Linked DNA regions of Homo sapiens. The protein of the gene in region 2 purifies or fractionates together with the protein of the main gene of each other region. This does not show direct contact. Each region holds a gene or a part of one and is shown on either strand. Other genes may lie near its edges. The genes, in order: CNTNAP1 and SEMA4A.

Region 1 (4,015 bases), on a different chromosome or scaffold from region 2:
GAGGGTTACATGAGGTGACACACGTGAAAATCCTCTATACATTCAAATGTGATCTACAAATATTAAGTATTTGATGTTTTCCTGGATGCCACAACGGAGACCATGAGGTTATGATCTGAACTGGCTCACCTCCCTCTATGCATACCTGGATGAAGAGGTTCCGGTAAACACGGGTGATATTGATGCTATGGGGCTGGCCATCGGTCACTGGTCGAGTGGTTAGCTGGTACACGTAGGGACTGGTGCCCAGCTGATATCGCAGCTGAAGGGTCCCTGTGGGGTGGGGAGAAGAAATTTGGGGTCTCAGGCCCCATGACTCCTATCTTCTAACAGCACGTGGGTCCTTGTATTTGTGAATCAATAGGAGAATTAGGGGCACCGGGGTGAAGCTGGAGTGGGGTGAGAGAGCCCGGGAGAGCTTACCATCATCCTTGATGAGCACAGCCATGTAGTCACGAACAAAGGAACTGACGTAGAGCAGGACAGCAGGGGCGGAGCTGGTGCTGAAGCTGAAGGAGACCTCCTCTCCCGTAACGTTGTAGACAGGCCCACGGTAACCGGGCACAGGCCGACCAGGCCGGGGGTAGTCGGGCAGGCGGTACCCGGGGCCATGGTAGCCAGGCACATAGCCCGGAGTATCATAGCCCGGGATGTAGCCAGGCTCATAGCCTGGCACTGGCCGGCTCAGCATGTGGGAGAACTCCCTGGCTGCAGAGCGCAGCGCTGACTGTAGGTTATAGCGCATCCAGGTGCCCGGCTCAAAGAAACCACCAATATCTGCAGGTAGAAGCAGGGAGGTTAGGGCCCCCACACTGCTCACTCCCCAATTCAGAGGTTTTATGTCATCCATACACACATCCTGAGACTTACTTCAGTTTCTGCCACCCTCACAACCCTCCATTTACTTTTAGGTCCCCTTGAGCCCCTCTGTCACAGAACAGAATCTTACAGCCATGGGAAACTGGAGATCATCTGATCCAACCCCTGCATTTTACAAATGGGGAAACAGGCTCAGAGATGAGTAGTGACTTGCTTAAAGACACGCAGTAAGGCCAGGCACAGTGGCTCACACCTGTAATCCCAGCACTTTGGGAGGCCAAGGCAGGCAGATCATCTTGAGGTCAGGAGTTCGAGAACAGCCTGGCCAACATGGCAAAACCCCATCTCTACTAAAAATACAAAACTTAGCTAGGTGTGGTAGTGCATGCCTGTAATCCCAGCTACTATAGGAAAGCCAAGGCAGGAGAATTGCTTGAGCCCAGGGGGCAGAGGTTGCAGTGAGCCAAGATCATGCCACTGCACTCCAGCCTGGGTGATGGGGATATCCTGACCCCATGTAGTATATGTGCCACTACTCACACTTCCAAACCACCACCAGAAATCTGTTGGTCCCTAAGTCTTGTATCTCCCTAGTCCCCCACACTCCTCCCACCAGTAACCCACCTGCTCATATATCCTCCCTATAGGCCAGCCTTAGGGAGGATGCAGTCTTGGCATGTGTGTAGGATCTTGCTATGGGGAATGTCAAGGCTCACCTTAACCAAGAACTGGGTCATTGACATGTTTTAGGAATGCAGCAATCATCAAATACATTGACAAGGGAGTTCGCCTGTGTTACCATGGTGATGGTGGGAAGATGGAGAAGCGATTTGCTTTTTTTTTTTTTGTAGACACAGTCCTTGCTGTGCCCCCCAGGCTGGAGTGCAGTGGCACGATCATAGCTCACTGCAGCCTTGACCTCCTAGGTGCAAGTGATCCTCCCACCTCAGCCTCCCGAGTAGCTAGGCCTAAGTGTGCACCACCATGCCCAGCTAATTAAAAAATTTTGCCAGGCGCTGTGGCTCACGTCTGTAATCCCAGCACTTTGGGAGGCCAAGGTGGGTGGATCACCTGCGGTCAGAAGTTCGTGACCAGCCTGGCAAGCGTGGTGAAACCCCATCTCTACTAAAAATACAAAAATTAGCCGGGTGTGGTGGCACACACTTGTAATCCCAGCTACTTGGAAGGCTGAGGCAGGAGAATCGCTTCAGCCCGGGAGGTGGAGGTTGCAGTGAGCCGAGATCGAGTCATTACACTCCAGCCTGGGCAACAAGAGTGAAACTCAGTCTCAAAAAAAAAAAAGAAAAAAGAAATTATTTTGGCCAGACGCGGTGGCTCACGCCTGTAATCCCAGCACTTTGGGAGTCTGAGGCAGGCAGATCACAAGGTCAAGAGTTCGAGACCAGCCTGGCCAATGTGGTGAAACCCCATCTCCACTAAAAATACAAAAATTAGCCAGGCATGGTGGTGCACATCTGTAGTCCTAGCTACTCGGGAGGCTGAGGCAAAAGAATCGCTTGAACCAGGCGGAGGTTGCAGTGAGCCGAGATCGTGCCACTGTACTCTAGCCTGGGTGACAGAGCGAGATTCCATCTCATAAAAAAAAAAAGAATTTTTTTTGTAGAGACAGGGTCTTGCCATGTTGCCCAGGCTGGTCTCGAACTCCTAGCCTCAAGCAATCCTCCCACCTTGGGCTCCCAAAGCATACTTGGTGATTTTGAGATATTTTTGCACCAGCTATCTGTACCATCCCTTCCTTGTCCATGCCTTTGGAGTCACCCATGATCTTCAACTGCCTAACTCCCCAAACTCAGAGCTCAGGAATCCAGGGACAACTCTAATTTTCCATGATATGGGCTTTACATGCTATTTCCTTCCCTGCCCTCCCTACATCCCATTACACCCTATGGCTCCCTGTTGCCCCATAACCAGCAGCACTTACCGTGGTTGCAGTATGGCCCATCAAAAGCCGTGAGGTCACAGTCACACGTGTAGTAGCTATAGCGCTCCACGCAGCGGCCTCCATGGAAACAGGGGAGCCGAGGGTGGGCACAGTGGCCTGTGCAGTTGGGTGAGGTACCCTCAGAGGCATTGGCACGGCCCTCCAGGTTCAGAGTCACTCCGTTCAGACGCATGGCCCTCAAGCAACCCACAAAGGGGCGTCTCTTAAGCTCTGCAGATCCTGGGAAGGGTAGGCAACAGGTCAAGAAATGGAGGCAGGGCCAGGCGCGGTGGCTCACGCCTGTAATCCCAGCACTTTGGGAGGCCGAGGCGGGCGAATCACGAGCTCAGGAGATCGAGACCATCCTGGCTAACATGATGAAACCCCGTCTCTACTAAAAAATACAAAAAAAATTAGCTGGGCACGGTGGCGGGCGCCTGTAGTCCCAGCTACTCGGGAGGCTGAGGCAGGAGAACTGCTTGAACCCAGGAGGCGGAGCTTGCAGTGGGCCGAGATCGTGCCACTGCACTCCAGCCTGGGTGACAGAGCGAGACTCCGTCTCAAAAAAAAAAAAAAAAGAAAAGAAATGGAGGCAGAGCCAGAGACAGGATGAAGTATTGTAGTTGGAAAGGGAGCCAAGAGGGCTGGAAGAATAGAATAGGATACAAAGGCCTGGAGGGACAAGTGAGACACTGGCTTGCTCTGAAGCAGAGGGGACTGGCACCTAAGACAGGAGGCTCCTGGAAACAAGGCGAGTGGCCTTGGAGGATGGGGAGGTAAAGGAGGCTTCAGACTTGCCTCTGGGTTGCTGCTTACCCACATAGAGGGGCTGGTCATACTCCATCCAGATGTAGGTCTGCAGTGGCATAGGCCGCAGAACCCAGGGCCGGTGATCCACTCGGAGCCGGGCCTGCTTCACGTTGATTTCAGCCCGGACCAGGTGCCACTCGTCATCATTGAACTCAAAGTCGTCTGAGTGTACTGTGAGGTTCTCATCCCCATTCCCCACATCAAAGGCGAAGACCACATCCCGGGATGCTGGACAGTGTGATGCAGGGTAGGGGAGAAAAGGACTCAGACCTACAAGACCCTTCATAGATCCTTGCCCAATATAACCTCTTTCCCTCACCTCTTTGGAGCTTCTTGAATATCCCTCCAATTTGTCTGTAGCTTGCATTGAAACTTACCAGCTGCTTAAAAACCTCATACCCTTTGTCTCTCCCCACATCACAGATCCCTGAAGCCAGCTTCCCA
Region 2 (4,201 bases):
TGAGGACTTGGTGGGCAGGCAGCTGACTCCTGAGATAAAAGTGGGGGAAGGGGAAGGGTTGCCTGAGTGTGCTCCCCAGGCCTTGGCAGCTAGATGCACTCTCCTCCACCAGCAGTTCTTCCCTTCACCCCACCCCAACACAAGAGCGTTGTGTGCTGAGCCCGCAGTAGAGAGGAGAGGCAGCCAGAGGCAGGGTAATGGGGACGGGAAATAAAGTGAGGCACAGTGGATGCTCTTCCAGGCCTGGGACAGGGAGGGCTACCGTCGGGGAGGACGCCTTGGTCCTCACTAGGATGAGGAGCAGCAGGCAGACAGACAAACAGGAAAGTGTTGGCAGCCACAAGCAGCAAAGCTATATGCAGACAGGAGGGCGTATGTCAGAGTCCCTCTCGCCATCCCCCCAACCACCCCTGCTTTCTTCCTCTTCTGTTAAAGGAAATTCCCACCAGTAGAGTCACCACGAACAGAGAGGAAGCATTTTTCTTCAAAGATCCATGTGGGCATGGCTGGATGTCCCCTGGGCAGGGATGGTGAGCCAGGTGTGGGAGGCTCACCTAGGTCCTCTCCATGACCTTGGCATGGTGGGGTGGGTGGGGGTGTATTTTCCTGTCCCACTGGCACATCGGCAAGGAGGAAGGAGCTCCTCAGATCCTCTCTCATTAGCACTTGCACTGTTGCATTAGTTAGAAAGCTGACTAGCTAATTGATACCTTTGCAGGCTCAGGGAATCTTACACAGTACAGAGGGGAGAAGTTGGGGAATCTGGTGTGGCTGCGGGATGGAAGGGCCAGCCTCAGGGAGGAGCATCTCCTGGAGGCCAGGCCTCCCCCAGAGCTGCCATAAACCCCTCAGTTGCTGAACAGATCACCCTGTATTGATGGTCTGATTGCTCATGTCTTCCCCCTTGTGACTGTGAACACCTTGAGGGCAGGGGCTGAGGCTTATCCGTGTTTGTGCGCCCAGCATCCAACACAGAGGAGGTCTCTGCATCAATGAGCAATATACATTTCTTTTACCAATTGCCCCAGAAAGATGCTAAAGACACAGCCATGCCCAGTCACCTACAACTCCTACAGTGTCTACATCCTTTCCTGAGTCTTCTCCCTGGAGGTGAGGGGGCCAGCAGCCTCCACAGTCTCAGTAAGAAACCAGCCAAGCTGTGCTTGTGTGTGGGTTCCAGGGCCCATTCTCCAACCAGCCATCCCATGGTCCTGGACATGGTATGGTCCAGCATGATCTATGTGGTTGGCATGGGCCTGGCGAGCTCCGGGTCACCGGGTCCACATATGGTCTTCTAGCATGGGCCTTGACTTTGGGGTACCTGGGAGTGTGAAGCAGTTAGGAGTTTGAGGTGCCCAGCTTGGTGACAGTGATATTTAAGGAAGGAAAGAAAAATTACCAACATGGAGAACTGGAAGAAGCGTGCCCCTGGCCCCGTGGCCACCTGTTTTCCTCAATCTGCTCTCCAGTGGCTTTTCTTTCCTTTTGGACTTCTGTTTCTGGCTGTGTCTCTCTTTCTCCGAGATCCTCTGTTTCTCCCTGGCATCTCTCTCTGTGTCCCTGTTTCTCCATATCCATTTCCTCCCCTCCTCTGTTCCTCTCTCCTTCCTCCACCCACCTCCAGCTCTCTATTGCTATCCCCACACTTCCTGCTGTCGGACACTTACCTGCATAGTATCTGACCCTGGGCATGGGCCCCTGCCCGCCTCCCCCCGCGGTCGTCGTCGGCAGCAGCAGCTGAAGCAGTTGGAAGAGGAAAAGGCCCAGGAGGCTCCAGGGGTCCAGGCCCAGGGCTGGGAGGGCCATGCTCAGCCACAGACTGTCACCAGGGAGCTCTGGGGAAACAGGCACCCGGGCACTTTCTGGGTGAGCAGTTCTTACCACATCCCCCCGAGGACCAATAGGAGAGCCCCAGGCAGCAGAAGCGTGTGTATTGGTGGCAGGGGTGGGGCATTGGGGCAGAGAAGGTTCCCTATCTGGAAGGGCCCTAAGACGGTCTCACTTTCATCATCCTTCCAGGCCTCAGCCTGTCACCTCACTGTCCCCTATGGGTAGGAGCCCAGGTCTCCCCTATCCTGCTTCTTCTGTTGTCTTCTCACCAACAGCTCTGGTTTGCCTTTTTTTGCCTTACTCTCAGGAAGTCTTTCCTGTCTTTCCTCCTTTGCCTTCCCTCTTCTCATAGCCCAAGCCCAAACCGTTGCCTGGCTCTGGGCAGGGAACATTTTGGGGAGCAGGTTCCTGTACCCAAAATATAAATTCCTCAGACCTTACTCTCCTGTCACTTTCAGATCTGTTGACACCTGTGCCTCATACTCAGCTCTGACCCAGGTAGGCAGACTGGGTTTGAGTCTGCCTGCTCTAACCTCTCCCCCAGCCCCAGCTGGGTTCAGGGTCTTTGAGGCTCAGGCCTGCCTGGCCTGATACTTCCAGGGAGGCAATGAGGGTCCATCCCACCAGGTTGGTTATCAGCATTTCCCGGGGAGCTGCCTGGGCAGGGGTGGCTGGCCGGCTCCCAGCCTCTGCAGCTCCCCGGCCCCCTTGTCTCTTGCTCCTGTGTCTGCCTCCCTGGGCCTCTACATAATCTTCCCCAAGACCACCCACCCCAAGCCACCCATCTCACCTCACATACCCTTGAACCAGCCACAGTGGGAAACTCGGTGTCTGGATTCTAGGGCGGGGGTGCCATTCAGGAGAAAGAAGAAGGGGGGTTCCCAGGCCCCAGAGGCAGGGGACAGAAGGCTCAGCCTGGCTGGAACGGGAGTGCGGCCCTCCAGGTGCCCATCATGCCAAAGCCAGCACTGGGAGCTCTAGGCCAGGGAAACCGGAATTTCCACCTCTCGAGTTGTGACAGATCCTGGCTTGGGCGGAAGTTGGTGGATTGGGAGGGAATAAAAAGACGTTCACCCACCTCACAAGAGACACACCTCTCTCTCCCTCCTCTGCTCGGTCCAACCAGAAAGTTTAAGAGGCCCTTCTAGGTCATTTCAGCGATTCCCCTGCCTCTCCATCATGTCACAGCCAGTATAACCAGCCTAGCAGTGGTTTCTTCTCTTGCTTAAGATTTCCCAGATAGGGGACATGACATATTCTTCTTTTCACTTACCCACAAGGTGGGGTCTCTCTACTCCTACCTACTGGGAAGTCCCTGCAGTGGTCTAACCTTTAAACCTCCCACTCTCAGCTGGGCCACAGTCTTTAAAAAAATAAAATAAAATAATTGTATTAGGCTCTTATCCATGATTTTGCTGAGGAAGTCCCCCTTGCAGTCTAATCTCCATCACTCTTTGACATCAGGCCAATAGGAAGCCCAGAAATCAGGCCAGTAGAAAGCCCAGAACATTTCCCATCTGAACTCGTGCTCACTGGACCACACTTTGGAGGCACCCAACCCCCAAAGGTGGCTGCTCACCCCTCCCTAAAGGCTCCAGGGGGAGCCTCATAACGCGGGGTTAATGAGGCATCCAGCGCCAAGAACTCTGTGGCCTACAAAGTGGGTAGGTTCCTGCCCACTCGACATGGTCAGCTGACTGCAGGTTAAAGAGCACAGACATCCCAGGGCTAATCCAACTCTAATAAATAATCCACTTCCATCTGACATGCACATTCCTCCCTGGCAGGAAGTCCTTCCTGTAGTGTAACTTCCATCCCTCCTGCTACAGCACCAGCCAACATGGGGGATGTTACAGCTCAGGCTACTCCTTATAATTCCTCATCTGAGGTACTCAGCCTTCTTTCATCTCTCTCAGTTTCCCCGGGGGTTGGTCTCAGACATATCCTGCCTGACAATCGTTTCTGTCAAGACTTGCCTAGGACTCCCCCAGACTCTCCCAGAGGCTGGTTGCCAGGTCCCTTCCAGTTTCTTAGAATCAAGAGAAACTCCCATTTATCCAGACCCTACCTTCTGTGTCTCCCCAACCCCCAGCTCAGATTTGGGAAGCCAGTCTGCCCCTGGGCCTCTCTGCTTAAACAGATTGGCTCATTTGGGTCACTGGGAAGAGTTCTGATACGGGGAGGCTGGGGGAGTTCCAGCCCTACACTCCCAGCCTGATGTCCTATTCCCACCTTTCTGGAAGTCATAGACTCCATGCCCTGCCCCCAGTTCTTCCTCCAGACATCCAGAATTCTCCCAACTCCGGACGTCCTCTTCCCCAGCCCCTCTAGCCAATATGAATAGTTCACACTATCAGGCTTTAGCCCTCCC

What was found.
Region 1: the proteins of SEMA4A (region 2) and CNTNAP1 purify together in Homo sapiens (affinity purification with mass spectrometry; one large-scale study listed by BioGRID and IntAct). This does not show direct contact.

What each region holds. Positions count from the first base shown.
Region 1 is NC_000017.11:42,692,283-42,696,297, reverse strand, and holds part of CNTNAP1 (contactin-associated protein 1 precursor), read right to left. Parts: intron 3,800-4,015; coding exon 3,578-3,799; intron 3,002-3,577; coding exon 2,762-3,001; intron 778-2,761; coding exon 424-777; intron 274-423; coding exon 146-273; intron 1-145. UniProt on the Homo sapiens protein: Required, with CNTNAP2, for radial and longitudinal organization of myelinated axons. Plays a role in the formation of functional distinct domains critical for saltatory conduction of nerve impulses in myelinated nerve fibers.
Region 2 is NC_000001.11:156,152,184-156,156,384, reverse strand, and holds the start of SEMA4A (semaphorin-4A isoform 1 precursor), read right to left. Parts: upstream 2,801-4,201; 5' UTR 2,621-2,800; intron 1,838-2,620; exon of another isoform or gene 1,836-1,837; 5' UTR 1,807-1,835; coding exon 1,668-1,806; intron 1-1,667. UniProt on the Homo sapiens protein: Cell surface receptor for PLXNB1, PLXNB2, PLXNB3 and PLXND1 that plays an important role in cell-cell signaling. Regulates glutamatergic and GABAergic synapse development.